Linked DNA regions of Homo sapiens. The protein of the gene in region 3 binds, or shares a complex with, the protein of the main gene of each other region. Each region holds a gene or a part of one and is shown on either strand. Other genes may lie near its edges. The genes, in order: DRC8, DRC3, DRC12 and DRC9.

The links.
Region 1: DRC12 (region 3) and DRC8 share a complex: the UniProt entries of both Homo sapiens proteins name them as parts of the nexin-dynein regulatory complex.
Region 2: DRC12 (region 3) and DRC3 share a complex: the UniProt entries of both Homo sapiens proteins name them as parts of the nexin-dynein regulatory complex.
Region 4: DRC12 (region 3) and DRC9 share a complex: the UniProt entries of both Homo sapiens proteins name them as parts of the nexin-dynein regulatory complex.

The regions. Positions count from the first base shown.
Region 1 is NC_000001.11:244,975,076-244,980,731, reverse strand, and holds part of DRC8 (dynein regulatory complex protein 8), read right to left. Parts: intron 1-5,656. UniProt on the Homo sapiens protein: Component of the nexin-dynein regulatory complex (N-DRC), a key regulator of ciliary/flagellar motility which maintains the alignment and integrity of the distal axoneme and regulates microtubule sliding in motile axonemes.
Region 2 is NC_000017.11:18,002,818-18,008,473, reverse strand, and holds part of DRC3 (dynein regulatory complex subunit 3), read right to left. Parts: intron 4,112-5,656; coding exon 3,980-4,111; exon of another isoform or gene 3,970-3,979; intron 2,292-3,969; coding exon 2,221-2,291; intron 1,451-2,220; coding exon 1,327-1,450; intron 1,077-1,326; coding exon of another isoform or gene 1,029-1,076; exon of another isoform or gene 540-1,028; intron 1-539. UniProt on the Homo sapiens protein: Component of the nexin-dynein regulatory complex (N-DRC) a key regulator of ciliary/flagellar motility which maintains the alignment and integrity of the distal axoneme and regulates microtubule sliding in motile axonemes.
Region 3 is NC_000011.10:119,188,421-119,193,664, forward strand, and holds the end of DRC12 (dynein regulatory complex protein 12), read right to left. Parts: intron 4,824-5,244; coding exon 4,731-4,823; intron 2,421-4,730; coding exon 2,290-2,420; intron 2,222-2,289; exon of another isoform or gene 2,147-2,221; intron 2,033-2,146; coding exon 1,880-2,032; 3' UTR 1,834-1,879; downstream 1-1,833. Other genes in the region: NHERF4 (Na(+)/H(+) exchange regulatory cofactor NHE-RF4), read left to right, coding at 1-131, 220-447, 585-785, 1,043-1,072. UniProt on the Homo sapiens protein: Component of the nexin-dynein regulatory complex (N-DRC), a key regulator of ciliary/flagellar motility which maintains the alignment and integrity of the distal axoneme and regulates microtubule sliding in motile axonemes.
Region 4 is NC_000003.12:197,910,765-197,916,420, forward strand, and holds part of DRC9 (dynein regulatory complex protein 9), read right to left. Parts: intron 3,279-5,656; coding exon 3,117-3,278; coding exon of another isoform or gene 3,072-3,116; exon of another isoform or gene 2,958-3,071; intron 2,732-2,957; exon of another isoform or gene 2,636-2,731; intron 1,986-2,635; coding exon 1,911-1,985; intron 1-1,910. UniProt on the Homo sapiens protein: Component of the nexin-dynein regulatory complex (N-DRC), a key regulator of ciliary/flagellar motility which maintains the alignment and integrity of the distal axoneme and regulates microtubule sliding in motile axonemes.

The DNA.
Region 1 (5,656 bases), on a different chromosome or scaffold from region 3:
CTGAATGCCTCACAGGCACCCAAACTCAACATGTGCAAGACTAGAACTATTATTTACATAACTCTACTATTCCTCTTTATTCTTTGTTACCCAATCAGAAACCGTGTCCCTGACCTGACTCAATATTCATATCTGTCCTATTACAAAATCTATCCATTTCCTCTAGCCTATCTCCTTGTTTCATTCCTGACTTCCATTACTTTGGTTCAGGGTTTTATCTTTCTGGACTACTATACTGGGACAAACCTGGAGTCCCAAACCTGGAGTCCATCTAATCCACTGAGCACACTTGCCCAAGTGATTTTTCTAGACAACAAATATGATTGTCTCTTGCTAAAAAAAACTTTATTTTTTATTTTTTCATTTTTATTTTTTAGACAGAGTCTCATTCTGTCAGCCACGCTGGAGTTCAGTGGTGCAATCCTGGCTCACTGCAACCTCCACCTCCCGGGTTCAAGTGATTATCCTGCCTCAGCCTCCCATCTTGTTAAAAACTTTTTTTTTTTTTTTTTTGAGACGGAGTCTCGCTGTGTTGCCCTTGCTGGAGTGCAGTGGCGTGATCTCGGCTCACTGCAACCTCCACCTCCTGGGTCCACGCCATTGTCCTGCCTCAGCCTCCCAAGTACCTGGGACTACAGGCACCTGCCACCACGCCCAGCTAATTTTTTTTTTTTTTTTTTTTTTTTTTTTTAGTAGAGACGGGGTTTCACCGTGTTAGCCAGAATGGTCTTGATCTCCTGACCTCGTGATCCACCTGCCTCGGCCTCCCAAAGTGCTGGGATTACAGGCGTGAGCCACTGCACCCGGCCTTGTTAAAAACTTTTAATCACTCACCAATGCTTTAAGAATAAAAATTCCCACATCTCCTAACCCATCCTAAATTTCGGCCATATTGAGTCTTCACAATTTCAAGTATGTTATTTCTTCTCTTCCTGAAATATCCATCCCCTACTTGTTCTCTGTGCTATTACACCTTCAAGATAAGCCTGGGGCTGGGAGTCGTGGCTCACACCTGTAATACCAACACTTTGGGAGGCCAAGGTGGGCGGATCACATGAGGTCAGGAGTTCCAGACCAGCCTGGCCAACATGGTGAAACCCCGTCTCTACTAAAAATACAAAAATTAGGCCAGGCGCAGTGGCTCACACCTGTAATCCTAGTACTTTGGGAGGCCAAGGCAGGCGGATCATTTGAGGTCAGGAGTTCGAGACCAGACTGGCCAGTATGGTGAAACCCCGTCTACTAAAAATATAAAAAAATGAGCCCAGCATGGTGGCACATGTCTGTAATCCCAGCTACTTGGGAGGCTGAGACATAAGAATCGCTTGAACCCAGGAGGCAGAGGTTGCAGTGAGCCGAGATCACGCCACTGCATTCCAACCTGGGCGACAAGAGCAAGACTACGTCTCAAAAAAAAAAAAAAAAAAAAAAAAAAAAAAGATAAGCTTCGGTTATCTCCTTCAGAAAGCCAACTTTGATTCAACATTCAGCAAATACTGAGCTATATGCCATGCTCTGGGTATATGCATGAGCATGACCCCTATCCTTTTGGAAGTTAAGAGTCTAGGAGAAGCAGACATCAAACAACACATCTACAGGCAATTACAAAATATAGTATGAAAGAGGAAAAAAACAAATAGCTATGAGAGGGAATAAAAAGGGGCTATAATTTAAAGAGGGTGTGTGTGAATCAGGTGACTCTCCCCAGGCACCCAATCATCATACATGTGCAACTATCATAGCACTTATCACATTATTGTATCATTGTCTCCTTAGCTGCCTATCTTCCTCTTTAGATGGAAATTCTTCAAACCAAAGGTCAGATAAATTGACACTAACAAGCAAAATCTTAAAAAGAATAAAAAAAAAGGCAATGTCCAAATTCTAGTCCAGGTTTTTAAACTCCCAATTTTACTAGTGCATTTAAAAAAATAAAATTATGGGCCAGAGGTGGTGGCTCAAGCCTGTAATCCCAGCACTTTGGGAGGCCAAGGTGGTAGGATTGCCTGAGGCCAGGAGTTTGAGACTAGCCTGGGCAACAGAGCAAGATCTTATCTCTACCAAAAATAAAAATGTTAGTTGGGCACAGTGGCACGCCCCTGCAGTCCCAGCTACTTGGGAGGCCAAAGTGGGAAGATCACTTGAGCCCAGAAAGTAGAGGCTACAGTGAGCTGTGATCAAGCCACTGCACCCCAGCCAGGGTGACAGAGTGAGACCTCGTCTCTTTTTTTTTTTTTTTTGAGACGGAGTTCCGCTCTTGTTGCCTAGGCTGGAGTAAAATGGTGCTCTCAGCTCATCACAACCTCCGCCTCCCGGGTTCAAGTGATTCTCCTACCTCAGCCTCCCGAGTAGCTGGGATAACAGGCATGCGCCACCATGCCCAGCTAATTTTGTATTTTTAATAGAGACGGGGTTTTCCCGTGTTGGCCAGGCTGGTCTTGAATTTCCAACCTCAGGCGATCCGCCAGCCTCAGCCTCCCAAAGTGCTGAGATTACAGGCGTGAGCCACTGCGCCCGGCCTAGATCTCATCTCTTAAAAAATAAAAATAAAAACTAAAATTACTTTTTTACAGTCTTAATATCTATAAAATCCATACTAGAGGTTTACAAAGGATTGTCAAGTACAGGATCTGGTAAACACACTTTCACAAGTGGGTAAGAATAATTTTTAATTAGCATATTTAAGTGGGTTTTTAAAGTTTTGTAGAACTGACATTAAAATGAGATTTTAAAAATAAGTGCCCCTAAAAGTCTAATCACCCTGCTATCATCATCATCTCCTGGGCTCCCCCACGTGTCCTTACCCATTTACACATATAATTTTTATATATTTGGCTGCAACCCAACAAGTGGACATACAACCATTTATTTTGTATGCCCCATTAGTTGGACATGCAAATGTTATCTATATTTTCAAATTTATAGATAACTTTATGTTGATCATTTTTGTGCTTAGAGCATTTTTTATTCTTTTCAGAATATATTTCTAAGGATAAATATCCAGAAGTATATTAAAGCTCAAAGCATGTGGACATCACTTTTTATTATTATTTTTTATTTTTTTGGTTTTAAGAAATAGAGAGTTTAACAGGCAAGAAGGAGCAAGAAAGGAGAAGGAAGAAGCTTCCCTGTACAGAGACAGAGGGATGGGGGCTCCAAAGCCAACAGAGGGAACCCCCGACTTCTTTATTATTATTTATTTTATTTTTAGCAAAGATGAGGTCTCAGCATGTTGCCCAGGCTGGTCTCGAACTCCTGGTCTCAAGTAATCCTCCTACCTCAGCCTCCCAAAGTGCTGAGTTTACAGATGTGAGCCACCTTGCCTAGCCATCATCATTTATTCTTCAATACAAATTTCCAAATTGCCTTTGAAAAACAATGTACCATTTCTTTCATTCTGAATGTACTCAACATTTTCTATTTACTAAAATGTGGTAAAATACACATAATGTAAAACTTACTGTATTAACCACTTTTAACCATATAGTTCAATAGTGTTAAGTACCTTCACACTGCTGGGCAACCAATCTCCAGAACTTCCTTCATCTTGCAGAACTGGAACTCTACACTCCTTAAACAACTTCCCATTCTCCTCTCCCCACAGCCCCTGGCAACCAGCAATCTACTTTCTGTCTCCATGAATTTGACTTCTCTAGGTACCTCATGTAAGTGGAATCACAGAGTATTTGTCTTTTTGACTGGCTTATTTCACTTAGCATGATGTCTTTCAGGTTCATTCAAGCGGTAGCATGTGTCAGAATTTCCTCCTTTGAAGGCTGAATAATATTTCACTACACGTATATACCACATTTGGTTTGTTCATTCATCCGCTGATGGACACTTGGCTTGCTTCCACCTTTTACCTACTGTGAACAATGTGCTATGAACATGGTTGTGCAAATATCTCTTCGAGGCCTTGCTTTCAATTACTGTGGATATATACCCACACGTGGAACTGCTGGGTCACATGGTAACTCAACTTTTAACTTTCTGAGGAACCGCCATACCACTTTCCATAGTAGCTGCACCATTTCTCATTGCCACCAACAGTCCACGAGGGTTCCAGTTTCTCCACATCCTCACCAATACTTATTATTTGGGGGACTTCTGGTGATAATAGCCTTCCTAACAGGCGTGAGGTAGTATCTCACTGTCCATTTGATCTTTAAAATTATGACTATTCTTGAGACATTTCTGTAAATTTTATATATCAGAGCAAAAACAAATTTCAGTCCAGTTTTTCTTCAAATTTTTTTTTATTCTGAATAAGAGGAAACAAATTAGGCTTCAAAAAGCTAGTCTTCTTGTTTGCTTAGTCTTAACCGGATATTTATATTGGTCTAAAACAGGAAGAAAACTTATTAAATTACCCCAGAAATATGCAGGAATGCATTATGCATGATCCCAATTGGTAAGACTTAAAAGTTTTCTTAACTCTTATGTTTTATTTGTTTTTTTGTTTTGAGATGGAGTCTTGCTCTGTTGCCTGGGCTGGAGTGCAATGCTGCGATCTAGGCTCACTGCAACCTCCATCCCCCAGGTTCAAGCAATTCTCCTGCCTCAACCTCTAGAGTAGCTGGGATAACAGGCAACCACCACCACACCCAACTAATTTTTGTATTTTTCGTAGAGAGAGCGTTTCACCATGTTGGTCAGGCTGGTCTCGAACTCCTGACCTCAGGTGATCTCCCCACCTCGGCCTCCCAAAGTGCTGGAATTACAAGCAGGAGCCACCACGCCTGGCCAACTCTTATGTTTTATGTTAAGCAGATACTAATACTTACTAATTCACTAGATACGTACCAAACACTTTCTTTCCCATTTATTCAGCATTCCTTTATTGTATTTTTTATTTATTTATTTATTTATTTTGAGACAGAGTCTCACCCTGTTACTCAGGCTGGAGTGCAGTAGTGTGATCTCAGCTCACTGCAACCTCCACCTCCTGGGTTCAAGCGATTCTCCTGCCTCAGCCTCCTGAGTAGTTGGGATTACAGGCACGCGCCACCACACTCAGCTAATTTTTTGTATTTTTAGTAGAGACAGGGTTTCACCATGTTGGCCAGGCTGGTTTTGAACTCCTGACCTCAAGTGATCCACCTGCCTGGGCCTCTCAAAGTGCTAGGATTACAGGCGTGAGCCGGCCTCAGCATTCCTTTGATGCCAGGCACTGTGGCAGGTGCTGGGGATGTAAAAATGAATAAGAAAACATTGTCCCCATTACAACATTATGAAATATTGGGGGTATAATTATCCCCACTTTACATCTGAGGAACTTGAAGCTACTTATGTTTAGCATCTCGGCTAAGATCAGATAATTAGAGCTTGGGGAAGACGGAATTCAAATTCAAGTCTTACTTCAAAGCTCAACCTTTGTACTGTCCCACAGGCTACACTCTATACTATCGACAGTTACTATGAGGCCAGGCAGGGTGGCTCATGCCTGTAATCTCAGCACTTTGGGAGGCCAAGGCAGGCAGATCACTTGAGCTCAAGAGTTCGAGCCAGGCGTGGTGGCTCACGCCTGTAATCCCAGCACTTTGGGAGGCCGAGGTGGGCGGATCACAAGGTCAGGAGATCGAGACCATCCTGGCTAATACGGTGAAACCCCATCACTACTAAAAATACAAAAAATTAGCCGGGCGTGGTGGCAGGC
Region 2 (5,656 bases), on a different chromosome or scaffold from region 3:
TGTTGCTGGTACTGAGGGGGTACATGGTGGTGAAAAGGCCATCCCCGTCCTCCCTCCTGAGCTTACATGTAGTGTGAATAGTCACATCAGCAGCAAATACACATCAGCCAGGTAGTTTGAAACTATGATGAGGCTCTGACCTGACCTGATAAATGGGGCATGTGATACAGAGACAGTGGTTTTTCTGGAAGTTGATGAAGAAAGGCCTCTCCCAAGAGCTGATAGTCAAGCTGAAATCTGAATGACAAGGACAAGCCAGGCACATGGGGACCTAGGAAGAGCGTGTCTGCCAGGTGGAATATCAACTGAAAGGAGCAAGCCTGGGTGACTGGGGAAGAGCTCAGAGGCTGCCGCTGAGCATCAGGAGTGAGGGTTCTGGGGGTGGGAATCGCCCAGATGGGCAGGGTCAGCCCGAGGGTCTGGGGGACTATGGGGAGGAGCTGACGCTAGGGGTCATGAAAGCCACTAGAAGGTGTTGTGTAAAAGTGTGCAGTGATAGGGTTTGGGTTTTCAAGGGTCCCTCTGGCTGCCACATGGAGGACGGACTGTAAGAGGACAGTAAAGAGGCAAGCAGTCCAGGCCAAGGACGATGGTGGCTTGCCTTGGTGGTGATGTCGCGACAGAGAGAAGCTGAGAAACTGGCAGTGGAGTGAATGATGCATGCACTAAAGCAGGCCCTGACAACATAGTATCTCTGTCTGGGCCCTGACAACATAGTATCTCTGTCTGGGCCCTTGATGCCCACACTCCTTCCAGAGACATAGACATGCTGCCGCGGGACCCAGCGCAGACATCCGGGAGAGCCTTCTTAGCGTGCAGACCCCAGGGATGGAGCCAGGTTCCTCAGGCCGACCCTGCTGATTTTGTGACCATTCATCAGTGGATGTGCTGGTGCAAACCGGATGGCATTGTGCAGGATCAGAAATGGTGGTTCCAACACCCCCACAGTACTCATTATACAGACTCTAAGGTTAAGAAGACCTCCAGGGGAAATCTCAGACTTCAACCTCTACCTGTAACTGCTTCTCTTAGAAAGTGCCAGAAGCCTCCACATAATTGAACTTTTGGAAACGACCCTGTTGGAAAGTTGAAACCATCTAATTATCATGAGCTCCTCTTTAACTGGGCCCCACTGGGTGCCCCACCAGGTGCTTTGTTAGCCTATTTTATCTGCCAGCAACCCTGTAAAGCAGGTTAGTGTGCCCTTTTGCAGATGAGAACACTGAGGCTCTGGGAGGTTGTCAGGCTTACTCACAGAGCCTCAGTCCAGCCACAGAGCTGGGCTGGACCACATCTGTCAGGCTCCGAGCAGCCCGCCCCGCCTACCGCGCGCAGGTCGTTAGGCAGGTCCTCGTCCAGGTCGCCCTCGACAATCTTCTCCAGGGTGCTGATAGAGATCTCCAGGAGCTTCTCGTGGTGGTGATTCTCCAGGTCCCGGCACTGAGCCATCGTGCAGCCCCGAGTTAAGCAAAGGCCCGGGAGGAGCAGGCCCGGCGCGTCCCTGATGCTCTCAGACGGCGGGAGACAGACTTTAAGGGCCCAAGGCGAGCTCGGAAATTCTGGCTGGCAGCACCGTCCACTCACAAGCTCCGAACCCTGGGCCTTCCTCGACTCCCTGCCCCTGCCCCACACCTCGGACGGACCCTCGGCCCCTGCCATCACACTCTTCTCTCCCTCCTGCATGGAGGCTCCTGGCCTCTGGGTTAACTGCTTCTCACCCTGTGCATTTGGCACCACTTGTTGCCTCTACAACTTGTCTCCCTGAGGGACTGTGAGCCCCAGGAGGGCAGGACCACAGGGCTGCTGCTAGCTGGAGCACAGCAGTTTGCCCCATGTGGAGTGCCCTGAGTTCGGGTGGAAGAAGGGTTGGCCATGCTCCGATGTTGGCTCCTCACCCTAACATTTCACCTGATGTACTCCTTATAGTGTCTTCCACGTGGGGGTTGCCTCAACCCCAGAGTGTGCTTGCCTGCAACACAGGGGGCGTCATTTCCTAGTGAACATCACTCATATGAGAACAATCATGCTGGGAGCCTACTGCAAACAGTTTGGATGTTGTCCCTCTGGGCATCCAAACCACAGCTCTAACCAGGCCATCATTGTTCTGAGGGTCGGGAAACCTCCTCAGACCCTGTGGAACATTCTTTTGTCCAGAGGCCGGGACAAGCCCAGGGGCTCTGTAGCACCTCCCCATGGGGAAGGTCATCACAGAAAGGATATAGGCTTTGGACATTTTCGATAAACAGTCCTACCATGTCAACAATGTTCCTTTCAAACATGTTTATAGTCTCCTGGAAATGTTAAAGAACACAGTTAACATGCATATTTAGATGTCCAGCACAGAGCAAAAGGTACTCCTCAAAATTTAGCAACCAGCTCCTCTAATCACAGACCTTCAGCATAAAGACCACCCATCTTGACCCTCCTGAGCAGATGGTTGTGAACTGACCCCTCTGCTCTCTCTAAAGTTGTTGTTCTCCAACCATATTAACTCCCTCACCATCTGAATGTTTAATGCTGTCACCGGAACTTTGCCAGGAACACTTGTCCTGGTCTTACTCCCCTTACCTGCCTGCCCAACACACACACACACAGCCAACCCCCTCTCCTTTGGGTTTCCCAGTGACATCTGTGCATCACCTCCAGGGAAACAGTGGAGTGAGCTGTTAAGAGCTAGACTGCCTGGGTCAGTATTCCCAGCTCCAGCACTCTGTGTAACTCTGGGAAAGGCATTTCACCTCCTTGGGCCTTATCTTCCTCATCTGGGAAATAGGTTACCTGCATAATCCCTGCGTTGTGGCGTTGTGGTGAGGTTAAATGAGTCACTTCACACAAAATGCTTTGCAAGGTGCCTGACAGAGAGGAGGCCCTCAGTAGGAGCGGGCTGGCACTCCAGATCTCTTTCAGTTAGTTGCTGTTTTGTGGTGCTTAGCAAGGCACCTAAGGCCCAAATGGGAGTTAGTGTTGATTGAAGGAACAATGGAAGATGTGATCTCCAGGCCTGCCACTCTCGGAGTGCCCCACTCCCATCTGCTATAGACTCCAGGGGCTGCAAGGTGGGCAGGGGTGGAATCTATAGGAATGTGAGTACTGTCTGCAGAGTGAGCACCTCACATAATTTTCAAACACATGTATGTGCTGTTCTCGTGAATAAAAATAGGGTCATTGAAAAGCATGATTGCGCTTGTGGCTTTCTGGCCACCAGTAATACAAGTAGGATGGCACATGGGTTCTGGGAAATGTTTGGATGTTGAAAGGCAATCTCCGTGCCTGAAAAGGCTGGGAGCTGCTGCCTCACTCGCCCCTGGCACTGTGCGCTGCTTCTGCAGTGCCTGTGCTCTCCAGCAGGGAGGGAGCACCTGCCCTGTGATGTGATGGGGAAATCTATCCCATGTCTGAGGTGTCACTTGACGTGTGAGGAATTGATTAGGTGCTATCACTTGGCCCAGCCACAGCAGCATCCGATGAGGTTCAATTCATCACACCACTTCAGACTCCCAGCCTCCGCTGCCTTGTAACACATACTCTGGCTGCTAATGAATTTCAGACAGCGGCGCTTTTCATTTTCACTACTTAGTGCTGAGTTGCAGCCTCCTCACGTCACCTGAGAAGCGGCAACTGCAGGCTGCAATGCGGAGGGGTCTTTGTTTGGTCCCCAAGTGGGGGTGCGCTTTGCCTTTAGAGTACCCGGATAGCTCCAGGGGTCTAATCAAAAACCTCTCCCCACTGACTTCCAGGATAGGGGGACCATTTCAGAAGAATGAGCTCACCTCTCATTTTCCACAAGAATCACTTCCAATGTAAATGATTAAAATGTAATAAAAGCAAACAGGACTGATGAGCAAGAAAGCTACAGCCTGCCACGCTGAGTCGTGCTGGACGTTTCCAGCAGAGGCGTGCCCATGAAGGCTACAGTTCACCTATGGATGTGCAGCTGCATCGCCAGATTCTGGCACTTGTGCCCAGGGCCCAGCCTTACCTCCAGCTGCTCCACCAGCTGCATCTCCAGCGTCATGAGCGCATCGAACAACTCACTGATGTCAGCACTGCATTCTAGGATCATCTTCTCAATGTTGGGCAGTTCCAACTCCTCTCGAATGGCACTTAAACTCTAGAAACAATAGACTGCACTTTAGGAATCAACAACTAAGTGTAATTAGATAATGGCAGGTGGCAATTTGGTTTTGTGGGTAAGAATTTGGACTCGAGTCAGCCTGCCCAAGTGCAAGTCTCAGCTTTGCCATTTGCTGGCTCTGAAAGCGTGTAGAAGCTACCTACCCTCTCCATGCCTCAGTTTCCTGGTCTGTAAAGTGCGATTGATAGCCCCTACCCTTGACACAAGTGAGAGAACACATGTGAGGCTCTTTGAGCACTAGCAAGTGCTCACTCCCTGTAAGCTCAGGTTTTTATTAGAGGCTGGTAGGCAGGGTAGAAGGAGCCATGGCTTTCATGGGGTTCAGAGCATTTCACACCAAAATATGCCGCTTTGGCATAGTGATTATTTTGAGTTAAAGATACTTAAAGGCCGGGAGCAGTGGCTTATGCCTGTAATCCCAGCACTTTGGGAGGCCGAGGTGGGTGGATCATGAGGTCAGGAGATTGAGACCATCCTGGCTATCACAGTGAAACCCCATCTATACTAAAAATACAAAAAAAAAAAAAAATTAGCCAGGCATGGTGGCGGGTGCCTGTAGTCCCAGCTACTTGGGAGGCTGAGGCAGGAGAATGGCGTGAACCTGGGAGGTGGGGCTTGCAGTGAGCCGAGATTGTGCCACTGCACTCCAGCCTGGGCGACAGAGTGAGACTCTGTCTCAAAAAAAAAAAAAAAAAAAAAAAGATACTTAAAAACAGAAAATGCAAAGAGGACACCCTGACCTCCCTTTTTCTTCCTGAAAGCAGAAGTTAAATCTCCCATGGGAAAGGTGCCCTCCCTGTACCAGGAGGAAAGAAACCATTCTTTTTTTTTTTTTTTTTTTTTTTTTTTTTTTTAAAGACGTAGTCTCACTCTGTCACCCAGGCTGGAGTGCAGTGGTACGATCTCGGTCACTGCAACCTCTGCCTCCTGAGTTCAAGCAATTCTCTGCCTCAGTCTCCTGAGTAGCTAGGATTACAGGCACCTGCCATTATGACCGGCTAATTTTTTTTGTATTTTTAGTAGAGACGGGGTTTCACCATCTTGGCCAGGCTGGTCTTGAACTCCTGACCTCATGATCCACCCACCTCGGCCTCCCAGAGTGCTGAGATTACAGGTGTGAGCCACTGTGCCCAGCCAAGAAGCCATTCTTATCATCAGAGGGAGGGAGTCCGGGCCAAGGGGAATCTGTGTGAACAAACCTTGTTAAACTAACGCTCATCTGCCTTGTCACTTCTCCACGATGAACTGCCTTAGCCCAAACCTCTTTGTCTTGTCACGTTCTCACAATTCACTACTCTCTGTCCAACTAAGTATATAAGCTTTCGGCCCTAACGGCTTCTTGAGCCTTCATTTTGCTTGTGAATGCTCCCATGTACATGTACAAATTACTCAATAAAATTTGTATGCTTTTCTCGTTTGTCTTATGTCAGTTTAATTCTTGGTCCCAGTCAGTGACCCTGATAAGCTAGAGGAAAAAATTTACCTGCCTTACAACTTCAGAGTTAGGTGAACCTGAATTTG
Region 3 (5,244 bases):
GGCTGGTGGCTGTGGCTGGGGAGAGCGTGGAGGGGCTGGGCCATGAGGAGACAGTGTCCAGGATCCAGGGGCAGGGCTCCTGTGTCTCCCTCACTGTCGTCGACCCTGAGGCGGACCGCTTCTTCAGCATGGTGCGTGCTGAGGGGCAGGGGCTAGGGTTGGGGCAGGAGTGGGGCAGGGCTGAGGTCCGAAAGATTTGCTCTCCCTGCCACCTTCCAGGTTCGCCTGTCCCCACTCCTCTTCTTGGAGAACACAGAGGCTCCCGCCTCGCCCCGGGGCAGCAGCTCAGCCTCACTGGTTGAGACAGAGGACCCTTCACTTGAAGACACAAGCGTGCCTTCTGTCCCTCTTGGCTCCCGACAGTGCTTCCTGTACCCTGGGCCTGGTGGCAGCTATGGCTTCCGACTCAGTTGTGTGGCCAGTGGGCCTCGTCTCTTCATCTCCCAGGTGACTGATGCCCCATGGATCTTGAATCCCTTCGATCCTTTGCTGCCTGATCGGTCTTCCTCTGCTTCCCTCCCAGAGCCTAAAGCCAGCAAACTTTCCCCCGGTGTCCCCTGTTCTGCATGCCCCCACAACACCAGGTGACTCCAGGAGGCTCAGCTGCCCGGGCTGGGCTGCAAGTGGGAGACGTGATTCTGGAAGTGAACGGGTATCCTGTTGGGGGACAGAATGACCTGGAGAGGCTTCAGCAGCTGCCTGAGGCTGAGCCACCCCTCTGCCTGAAGCTGGCAGCCAGGTCTCTGCGGGGCTTGGAAGCCTGGATTCCCCCTGGGGCTGCAGAGGTGAGGAAGAAGAAACAGATGGGACTGTGAGTAGCTACAGAGGGCAGGGAGGAGTGAGAAAGAAGGGCAGAGTGGGCGAGGTACAAGGTGAAGCCGTGTGGGGTATGCAGGTTGGGACTTCAGGTCGTGGTAGGTGGGGACAGAAGGACTCGTGAAATAAACCCCATTTCTGGGCATTCCAGTGCAGGGCGGGGCAAGAAAAAGGAACTCTTCTGGGTCCCACCTGGAATGACCTTCTACCTCCTCTCTCTGTATAGGACTGGGCTCTGGCCTCGGATCTACTGTAGAGCACCCCTGCTTGGTACAGACATACTCAGGGGCTACCGTGTCTTCACTCTCCAGCCTGAGGTGGTGAAGGCAGGATGCTCTCTCTAAGCCAGACCAGAGGGACTCAGACACCACCGATCACAGGCTGGCCCAGGTGCTCCCTCCCTTCCTGCAGGCCCACCTGCCAGCAGAGGGTGTGGTTGGAGGCCTCAGACAGGTCCCTGAAGGAGTCTGAGGCTCCAGAGGATGTCATATGGGAGTTTTAGAGAGCTGTGTCCCAAGGATGAAGGTGTGGCTGTGGGTCTGGCTAGGATTGAAGCCATCTGGACCTTTTCTAGATATGACTCCAGGACCCTTGAGTGTAATGCAAAAATTTGGAGACCAGCTATGCCTGCCCTCTGTGGGTGCCTTAGCATTGCGGGAGGGTGGTGCTTGGTCACCGTTGCATTTGTTATAGAAATGGCCATTCGCCATAAATCTGACTGCCTGTGTTTGTGTTGGTGGGGGTAAGGGGCAGTGGTGTGAAGGGACCAAAAGGGCCTCAGGCTCAAGGGGTGGGATGCGGCTCCTGCAGGAGAGAGGTTGAGACCTGGTCAAATTTATTTCCTATCAATCACTGAATCTCAGGGATAATGGGTCAACCCAGAACTGAGATGTCTGTATGACAGCCACTCCTAAAAATAAACAACAACAAAAACAAAAAAAGAAGAAAACTAAATAAAAATAAAAATAAAAATAAGATCCACTTCTCTCTGCCAAACGGCCAGAGCCCACAGCTCTATTGAGTTCTACATCAAGACACTTTATTGCTGGGGCCTCAGAGAACACTAGAGACTAGGGGCTGGTGGCCTCAAAGATCCAGGGGGGGTGAGTCCAAACTGGCGTTGCTGCTCCTTGTGCCTGGCGTGAAGTCTCAGTGCTGCCCCATCCCACTGCTGCTTGATGGCTCTCAGCTTGGCCAAGAGCCTGTCCAGACTGTCCTGCAGACATCAATATTTCAGACCCCAGAAAGAGAGAGAGGGAAGGAGTGAGTGCTGCCCCAGGTTGGTTCATAAGCTTTCCTTGCCCAGTAGACATGGTCGTATCCCCTCTGTCTGCCCTCAGGATAGAGCAGGGCTCCCTTGGAGACGCTCCTTCTCCTTAACCCTGGGTTGTCAGTCATCATACGAGCTGGGGTTTGTGGGCATGGGGGAGTCCTGGGTACTGGGATGGCTGGGATCCAGGGGGTGGTGCTTACGTGTAAGATTTCCTCATACTTCGCCTCCATGTCTGCCATGTGGGCCCGAAGCTGAGCCAGGGCCTGGTCCCGCTCTCCGAGAGCTTGTTCAGCCTCTTCCCGGGCAGCTGCAGCCTCCCTTTGGCATGCCTCTGGGGGCAGGCAGGATGAAAGAGAGCAGGATGGTGACACTCTATCCTTGACCAGTCTCTCCAAAGGTATCTGGAAAGGAGACCTCAAATGGGCTCGTTCCAGACTCCCCCAGCATCACCAAATTTCCCGCAGTCCCTGTAAAAGCTGAAGCTCCACTGAGGTATATAGCAGAGAGTGGCGGGCTTGAGATAGAAGGCTCCAAAGTCGGATTACTACCTAGGTGACCACATGCATGTCTCTTTCTGAGCCTTGGTGTCTTCATCTTTTTTTTTTTTTTTAGATGGAGTCTCACTCTGTCGCCAGGCTGGAGTGCAGTGGCGCGATCTCAGCTCACTGCAACTGCCACCTCCTGGGTTCAAGCAATTCTCCTGCCTCAGCCTCCCGAGTAGCTGGGATTACAGGCACATGCCACCATGCCCAGCTAATCTTCGAATTTTTAGTAGAGATGGGGTTTCACCATGTTGGCCAGGATGGTCCCTATCTCTTAACCTTGTGATCCGCCCGCCTCGGCCTCCCAAAGTGGTGGGATTACAAGTGTGAGCCACCGCGGCTGGCTGGTGTCTTCATCTGTAAAGAGAGAATGACACATCCCTCAGGGGCATGCTGTGACCTTTAAACATGATAAATGGATGACAAAGCACCTAGCTAGTATACAGGAGGTGCTCAGTAAACATTGATTCATTGGCCGGGTGCGGTGGCTCACGCCTGTAATCCTAGCACTTTGGGAGGCCGAGGAGGGCGGATTACCTGAGGTCAGGAGTCCGAAACGAGCCCGGCCAACATAGGTGAATCTCCATCTCTACTAAAAATACAAAAATTAGCCAGGCATGGTGGCGCACACCTGTAATCCCAGCTACTCGGGAGACTGAGGCAGGAGAATTGCTTGAACGTAGGAGGTGGAGGTTGCAGTGAGCCGAGATTTGCCATTGCACTCCAGAATGAGCGACCAGAGTGAAACTCCGTCTCAAAACAAAAAACAAAAAACAAAAAAATCCCCAAAACAACAACAGCAAAAACAAAAACAATTGAGTCATTGATTGACTTGGAATTTGAGGTAAAGCAAAGATTAGGAAAGGAACCCAGAGTCTGAATGGCAGATAAGCAGCTCCTGGCCATCTATAGCTAAACCGAAGGCCTTTTTTTTTTTTTTTTTAGTTGGAATCTTACTCTGTTGCCGAGGCTGGAGTGCAGTGGTGCGATCTCGGCTCACTGCAGCCTCCGCCTCCTGGGTTCAAGTGATTCTCCTGACTCAGCCTCCCAAGTAGCTGAGATTACAGGCACACGCCACCATGCTCAGCTAATTTTTGTAATTTTAGTAGAGATGGCATTTCACCATACTGGCCAGGCTGGTCTCAAACTCCTGGCCTCAAGCAATTCTCTTGCCTTGGCCTCCCAAAGTGCTGGGATTACAGGGGTGAGCCACCGCACCCGGTTGAAGGCATTTTTAAGGTATGAAAACTTTGAGACCAAAATTGTGAAAGAGCTCATGTGTCATGCTGAGATATTTCAACATTATTTTGTAAGCAAGAGACAAGAGAAGCAAAGGCTTCCTGGTTTTTAAAAATATTTTTGCTTATTAGGAGTGTTTATTCATTTATTTGGTGAACAGTTATTTAGGATCTACCAGATGCTAGGTCTTGAAGATACAGAAGTAAATAAGTCAAACATTTCCCCTTAGTTTCATTGTAGAAATCAGCTAAACTAAAAGGGAATATGTTTTGCTCACAAGAGACATGGCAGTGGTGGGGAGTTAGGGCTGGACTTGAGAGGAGGAAATGGGGTGTGAGGCCTACATCTTCTTTTTTATTTTTATTTATTTTTTTGAGACAGAGTCTTGCTCTGTTGCCCAGGCTGGAGTGCAATGGCGTGATCTCGGCTCACTGCAACCTCTGCCTCCTGGGTTCAAGCGATTCTCCTGCTTCAGCCTCCCGAGTAGCTGGGATTACAGGTGTGCGCCACCACATCCGGCTAATTTTTATATTTTTAGTAGAGACGGGGTTTTGCCATTTGGCCAGGCTGTTCCTGGACTCCTGACCTCAGGTGATCCGCCCGCCTTGGCCTCCCAAAGTGCTGGGATTACAGGCCTGAGCCACCGCGCCTGGAGCCTCTTCTTTACTTACAGCAGAGATTTTTGGTATCCCGAACCCTCTGCTGCAGTCCTCAGTGGTGGAGGGTCAGCGAAAGTGGGGAAAGTGATCCAAGAGCCCAGACGGCAGCTTTCTGGAGCAGAGACTTTGAAGTCTACCCCTTCATGCTGGCCCTTGCTGCAACTCTTGGAGAGAAGGGGCTTGGAGGGTGGGGAAACCTACCTAGCTGCCCCCGAAGGCCTTTGACTTCTTCCTCCAGCTGCTTGCTGCGGGTTTGCATATCCTCCTGCAGGGCATGGCACTGGCGACTCATCTCTGGGGTGGGGGCAGTGGGCCACCAGGGACCCAGGTTGGAGATGGAGGGATGGAGAAAGGAAATGAAGTTGTGGGTGGGGAAGACTCTACTTGGTCTAGTGGAACAGGAGCACAAAGGCCTTCTTGGTTCTTTTTGTGATTCTGAGAAGCTGCAGACCATGAAAACCTGAGGAAGGGACAGGAAGCCCGACCTACCTCCCCCAGTCCAGCTTTGGATGGGGATGCTAGCCCTTCTCCCCGCCCATGGGCTGATTGAGATGATGGCTATGACTGCATGTGTATCCTACACAGCATCAAGCACATGGCACCAGGCATCCTGGAAGGCCCCTGCCTGGGATCCCAGGAACCTACCTGCCTTTGGTTCCTGCAGGATCCTTCCTGATTTGTACTGTTTGGGAAAGACCAAGACCAGGCCTGGCAG
Region 4 (5,656 bases), on a different chromosome or scaffold from region 3:
AGGTCAGGAGTTCTAGACCAGCCTGGTCAACACAGTGAAACCCCATCTCTACTAAAAATACAAAAATTAGCTGGACGTGCGCCTGTAATCCCAGCTACTCAGGAGGCTGAGGCAGGCGAATCGCTTGAGCCCAGGAGGCCGAGGTTGCAGTGAGCCAAGATCACGCCACTGCACTCCAGCCTGGGCAGTAAAGCAAGACTGCATCTCAAAAACAAAACAAAAAAAAAAAAAAAAAGAAAGAAAGACTCCAGGTAGACTTAGACATAATTCTAACCTTAGATATATTATAGACCCAGCTTGGTTATTAGTATTGAAAATGCTCTTAAAACCACCGTGTCATATATATTTCACACAAGAAGAAATAAATTGAGTAAACATGTGGAAAAATGTTATGTTCACCTGTTAATAAGCAAAAATAAAAAATAAAACAACTCATTAAATTAGCAGACTTTGAAAAATATTGAAAATGGCTACTAATATTGAAGAGACCTTGAAATTACTGCCTGCAACACTGCTAACGGCAGCACAGATTCGAGAGTATTAGCAATGTTTATTAAAAGTCACAAAATACTAGTCTCTGAAACAAAAATCTCATGACTGAGATTGGCTTTTAGTAAATAGTTGCCATGAAGAAAAACAGTTCTTTGGGCAAAGCTTTAATGAGTGCATTATTTATAATAACAAACTTTAGAAACAACCTAAATATAAAAAAAAAGTGTAACAAATAAACTGTGGCACAACCATTCAATGGAACGTTAAACACAATTTTCAATTATTTTATAAAGAAACTGTAATAACATAAAAAATGAAAAGCAATGAGTAATTTTAAAAATCTTCACTCAACTGGGAATGTTATTTTTATAGTGTAAAAGATTAGTAAATTTTTTTTTTTTTGAGACAGATTCTTGCTCTGTTGCCCAGGCTGGAGTGAGTGGCATGATCTCGGCTCACTGTAACCTCTGCCTCCTGGGTTCAAGCGATTCTATTGCCTCAGCCTTCTGAGTAGCTGGGATTACAGGCGCCCGCCACCATGCCTGGCTAATTTTTGTATTTTTAGTAGAGACGGGGTTTCTCCATGTTGGCCAGGCTGGTCTCGAACTCCTGACCTCAGGTGATCCGCTGGCCTCTGCCTCCCAAAGTGCTGGGATTACAGGCGTGAGCCACCATGTCCGGCCTTTATTTATTTTTCTTTTTTATTTATTGGCCACTATACTATTGGGAAAAATTTTTAAATATAGTCATAATTTAAAAATAATTAATTTAAAAATTATGTCTTTTTTTGGTTTTTGTTTTTGAGACGGGGTCTCGCTCTGTTGCCTAGGCTGGAGTACGGTGGCGTGATCTCAGCTCACTGCATCCTCTGCCTCCCAGGTTCAAGCAATTCTCCCACCTCAGCCTCCTGAATAGCTGGGATTACAGGCGCACCACCATGCCCGGCTAATTTTTGTATTTTTTAATAGAAACAGGGTTTCACCATATTGGTCAGGCTGGTCCCAAACTCCTGAACTCAGGTGATCCACCCTCCCCGGCCTCCCAAAGTGCTGGGATGACAGGCGTGAGCCACTGTGCCCAGCCCATAAATTTGTAGGTCATAATTTGACTTAATAAATTTTAAGTCATAAATTAAGTCATAATTTGAAAATTATGAGTATACAGCAATATAGAAATCGAAAAATTTCTTATGTAAGCTCAATGATAAAAGCAGAAAACAAAATTTTACCTGCACTCTCTCAAATTACAGCTATATAAGATATCTATTCAGATGCATAACCCTGAAAGAAAACATGAGCTAAAGTTCATTAGGCTGAAAGAATGATGGTTGGTTTTCCTTCAAAATATTCTTTTTGTTTCCTCAGTATAAGCAGAGTACAAAAAAAAAGTCAAAGCATAGAAAAGCTGTGGGGACCCACCTGCTGCTCCTTTCTAAGGAACATTTCAATCTCTGTATGAGTCCGGGCCTCTTCTTCGGTTTTCATCCTGAGTTTCTGTAAGAACAATCAGATACCAGTACGTCTTCCCCGCAGGGCTGGGAATCAGAAGTTCTCAAGATGAGAGCAGCAGCTCGGTCGGTAGCTGAGGCTCCCTTTACCAGCTGGGATCCCGGGCTTTCAGTTCCCTGCAACTCCTGTTCACCAACACTGCAGAGCCACGTGGCGCGGCACTGTGTGGACTGCGTGTGTCCCTAACGAGACGAGCACAATCCCGTGAGCTGAACAGAGGTGCCCACTGAAGGACAGAAACGGCGCTCCAAGGGCACAAGGCTGTGGGGCTTAAAAAGGGGGATTCCGGAGTGCCAGGAAGAGTGTTGACGTGGCCTTGAGCCACGTCAGTCTCAGAGCGAGGAGTCCTCCCACACACAGATTCCACGGCCCAAGGACGTTTGTTCCTGCTTCCCTCTTCCCATCTGCCTGCTGCTCTTTCTTGTTTTCTTTTCTTTTTTGTGAGAAGGGAGTCTCCCTAGTTGAAGTCTGAAGTTGCCCAGGCTGGCTTCAAACTCAAGGATCCTCCTGCCTCACTGCCTCACCTCCGATTAGCTGGGACTAGTGCCTGGCTTTGCGTGTGTGCGTGCGTGCGTGCGTGCGTGTGTGCGTGCGTGCGTGTGTGCCATTTAGCATTCCCCTCAAAGAAGATCTACCACTTCTTTCTTCCTCCTGGCATTTTTCACCGTGACTTCTCATCCTATAAACTCAGGTTTGAACGAAGTTCAGCGCTCTCGATGCTGTATTTCTTACTGGAGGAGTGAAAGGTACTGGTTAGATGAAAGAAACAGCAGCAAAATCCTGCCATAACTAAGCACCTCGTTTTGCCCTCTCCCTATAATTAGTCAGAAAAATGGTGATTGGTTTGCCAAAATAAGAAGTGACCAAGGAGAGAAAGTGCAGCCAATTTTCAAAGTCATTATGAGGCGGGAGATGGAGGCTACAGCCCACTGGAATCTCTGCTTGCGAACACGCATATCCTCATTTAGGCTTTTATTTTCAACCTCAAGTGGAGGGGCTGTTGCCGATAGAGATGGAGGGAAATCTTTGTCTCCCTCCTTTGTTAGCTGAGAGGGGATCAGGAGTGACAGCTCAATTGCCATCTCCTGGGTTCTTGGCTAATGTCCCAGGGATTACCTCAATCTCTTCCACCAAGAGTTCCTCTGTTCTGTTACACTTTTTCTGGGTCTGGGCAATCTGCAGCTCGGTATTGGTTTTCATGTAGCGATTCTCCAAGTTGGATTTTGCCTTCATCTCTTGCAGTTGGTCCTTGAGGTTAGCAATATACTCATTCTGACTCTGTAGTGGAAAGACCAGGTTTCTAAATTGAAAATACATTCTACCTCCATTCAGTTCAGTCAGCGGCTTACGGTTCCCTTTTATGCGTATAAATCAATAAGGAACTGGAACTATTTTTCCGCTGTCACACAATGGGAAATTTAGCCAACAATCATGAAGTGTATAGATGAAAGTGAGTAACACAGCATTTCTAAGAATCAGGGCGCATCAGGGCTGTGAGATTAGTTCCCAGGCACATTATTGCTGTACTCCGTATGTCCCACACAGCTTTCTCATTTTGGTAGGAAGAACACTGGTCAAAATGATCAAAAGAACTGACTTCCCACCCAGGCCTCCAGCTGTGTGAACTTGGCCAAGTCAAATCTCCAACTTTTTACTTTCTATAAAACAAACACACAAACATACAAACACCCAACCTGCCTGAAGTATCTCAGAGAGTGATTATTAGGTTTCCTTGAGAACACGTGTGAAAACGCTTTCTTTTTGCAGGTCACCAAGTGCTTGGCAATTGTGAGGACTCAATAGTCATTAAGAAAAATATTTATTCAGCACCAGGCACTGAGCTAGGAAAATTGTGGAGATCTAAACAGACATATTCCCTTCCCTCATAGAGCTTACAGTCTAATAGAAGAGAGGTGGTTAAAAAGAGACAAACACATGTGTAAACTTCCAAAAATTGTGCAAAATGATAGAAAAGGAAGGCTCGAGAGGCTGTGGGAGGAAATAACAAGGGAGGAGTACATTAGACTCTGGAAGGTCTGAGAAGGACTCTCTCGGGAAAGCGATGGCTCATTCGATACCTGAAGGACAGGTAAGCCCACCACATGAAAAATAGGCTTGGCCAGGCACGGGGGCTCACGCCTGTAATCCCAGCACTTTGGGAGGCTGAGGCATGGCGACCAGCTGAGGTCAGCAGTTTGAGACCAGCCTGGCCAACATGGTGAAACCCCGTCTCTACTAAAAATACGAAAAATAGCTGGGAGTGGTGGCGGGCGCCTGTAATCCCAGCTACTCGGGAGGCTGAGGCAGAAGAATCACTTGAACCCGGGAGGTGGAGGTTGAAGTGAGCTGAGATCATGCCACTGCAGTCCAGCCTGGGTGATAGAGCGAGATTCTGTCTCAAAAAAAAAAAAAAAAAAGAAAAGAAAAAGAAAAAAAGGAAAGAAAAAGAAAAGAAAAATAGGGTTAAGGGAACTCTAAAAAAAAAAAAAAGAATAAGTATATGCCCAAATCCTGAAGCAATCAAGACCTGGATACATTCCAGGAACTGAAAGAAAGCTCCGGAGGCTCTAGCCTAGTGAGGGTTGAGGGGAGGACAGGATGAGGTTGGAGGTCGGTAAGGGCACCACACAGGACCCCGGAGACCCAACTGAGAAATTCAGATTTTATTCCAACTGTCATGGGAATCCTTGGAAAGCTTTTAGTCAGGGAGGTAACATTTGTTTGAAAAGAACTGTTTGGGCGGAATCAGTGTGTGAGTAAGTCCACAGGGAGGGGACCTGACGGCACAGCAAACAAGCACACGACTAGCAACAAAAGTGCTTCAACCCGAGACCTGCTCCTCTAGATACCAACCGCCTTTCTTCTCTTTTTACATTTTTTTTGAGATGGAGGCTCGCTCTTGTTGCCCAGGCTGGAGTGTAGTGGCATGATCTTGGCTTACTGCAAGCTCCACCTCCCAGGTTCAAGTGATCCTCCTGCCTCAGCCTTCTGAGTAGCTGGGATTACAGGTGCTCACCACCACACCCAGCTAATTTTGTATTTTTAGTAGAGATGGGGTTTCTCTACATTGGTCAGGATGGTCTTGATCTCCCGACCTCAGGTGATCCACCTGCCTCGGTCTCCCAAAGTGCTGGGATTACAGGCGTGAGCCACCACGCCTGGCCTCCAATTGCCTTTCGTCTTAACCATGTAAGTAGGGTAGAATTAGTTCTTTTGTATTAAAAAAATTTTTTTGTTTAGAGACAGGATCTCCCTCTGTCACTCAGGCTGGAGTGTAGTGGCTCGATCACAGCTCACTATAACCTCCAATTCCTGGGCTCAAGCCATCTTCCCAAGTAGCTAGTACTACAGGTGCATGTCACCATGCCTGGCTAACTTTTTAATATTTTTAGAGATGGGGGTCTCACTCTGTTGCCCAGGCTGGTCTCAAACTCTTGGCTTCAAGGGATCCTCCTGCCTTGGTCTCTCAAAGTGCTGGGATCACAGACATGAGCCACTGCGCCCGGCTTTGTTGTTGTTGTTGTTGTTGTTGTTTTTGAGACGGTCTTGTTCTGTCACTCAGGCTGAAGTGCAGTGGCATGATCACGGCTCACTGTAACTTTGACCTCCCAGGCTCAAGAAATCCTCCTGCCTCAGCCTACAGAGTAGTTGGGACT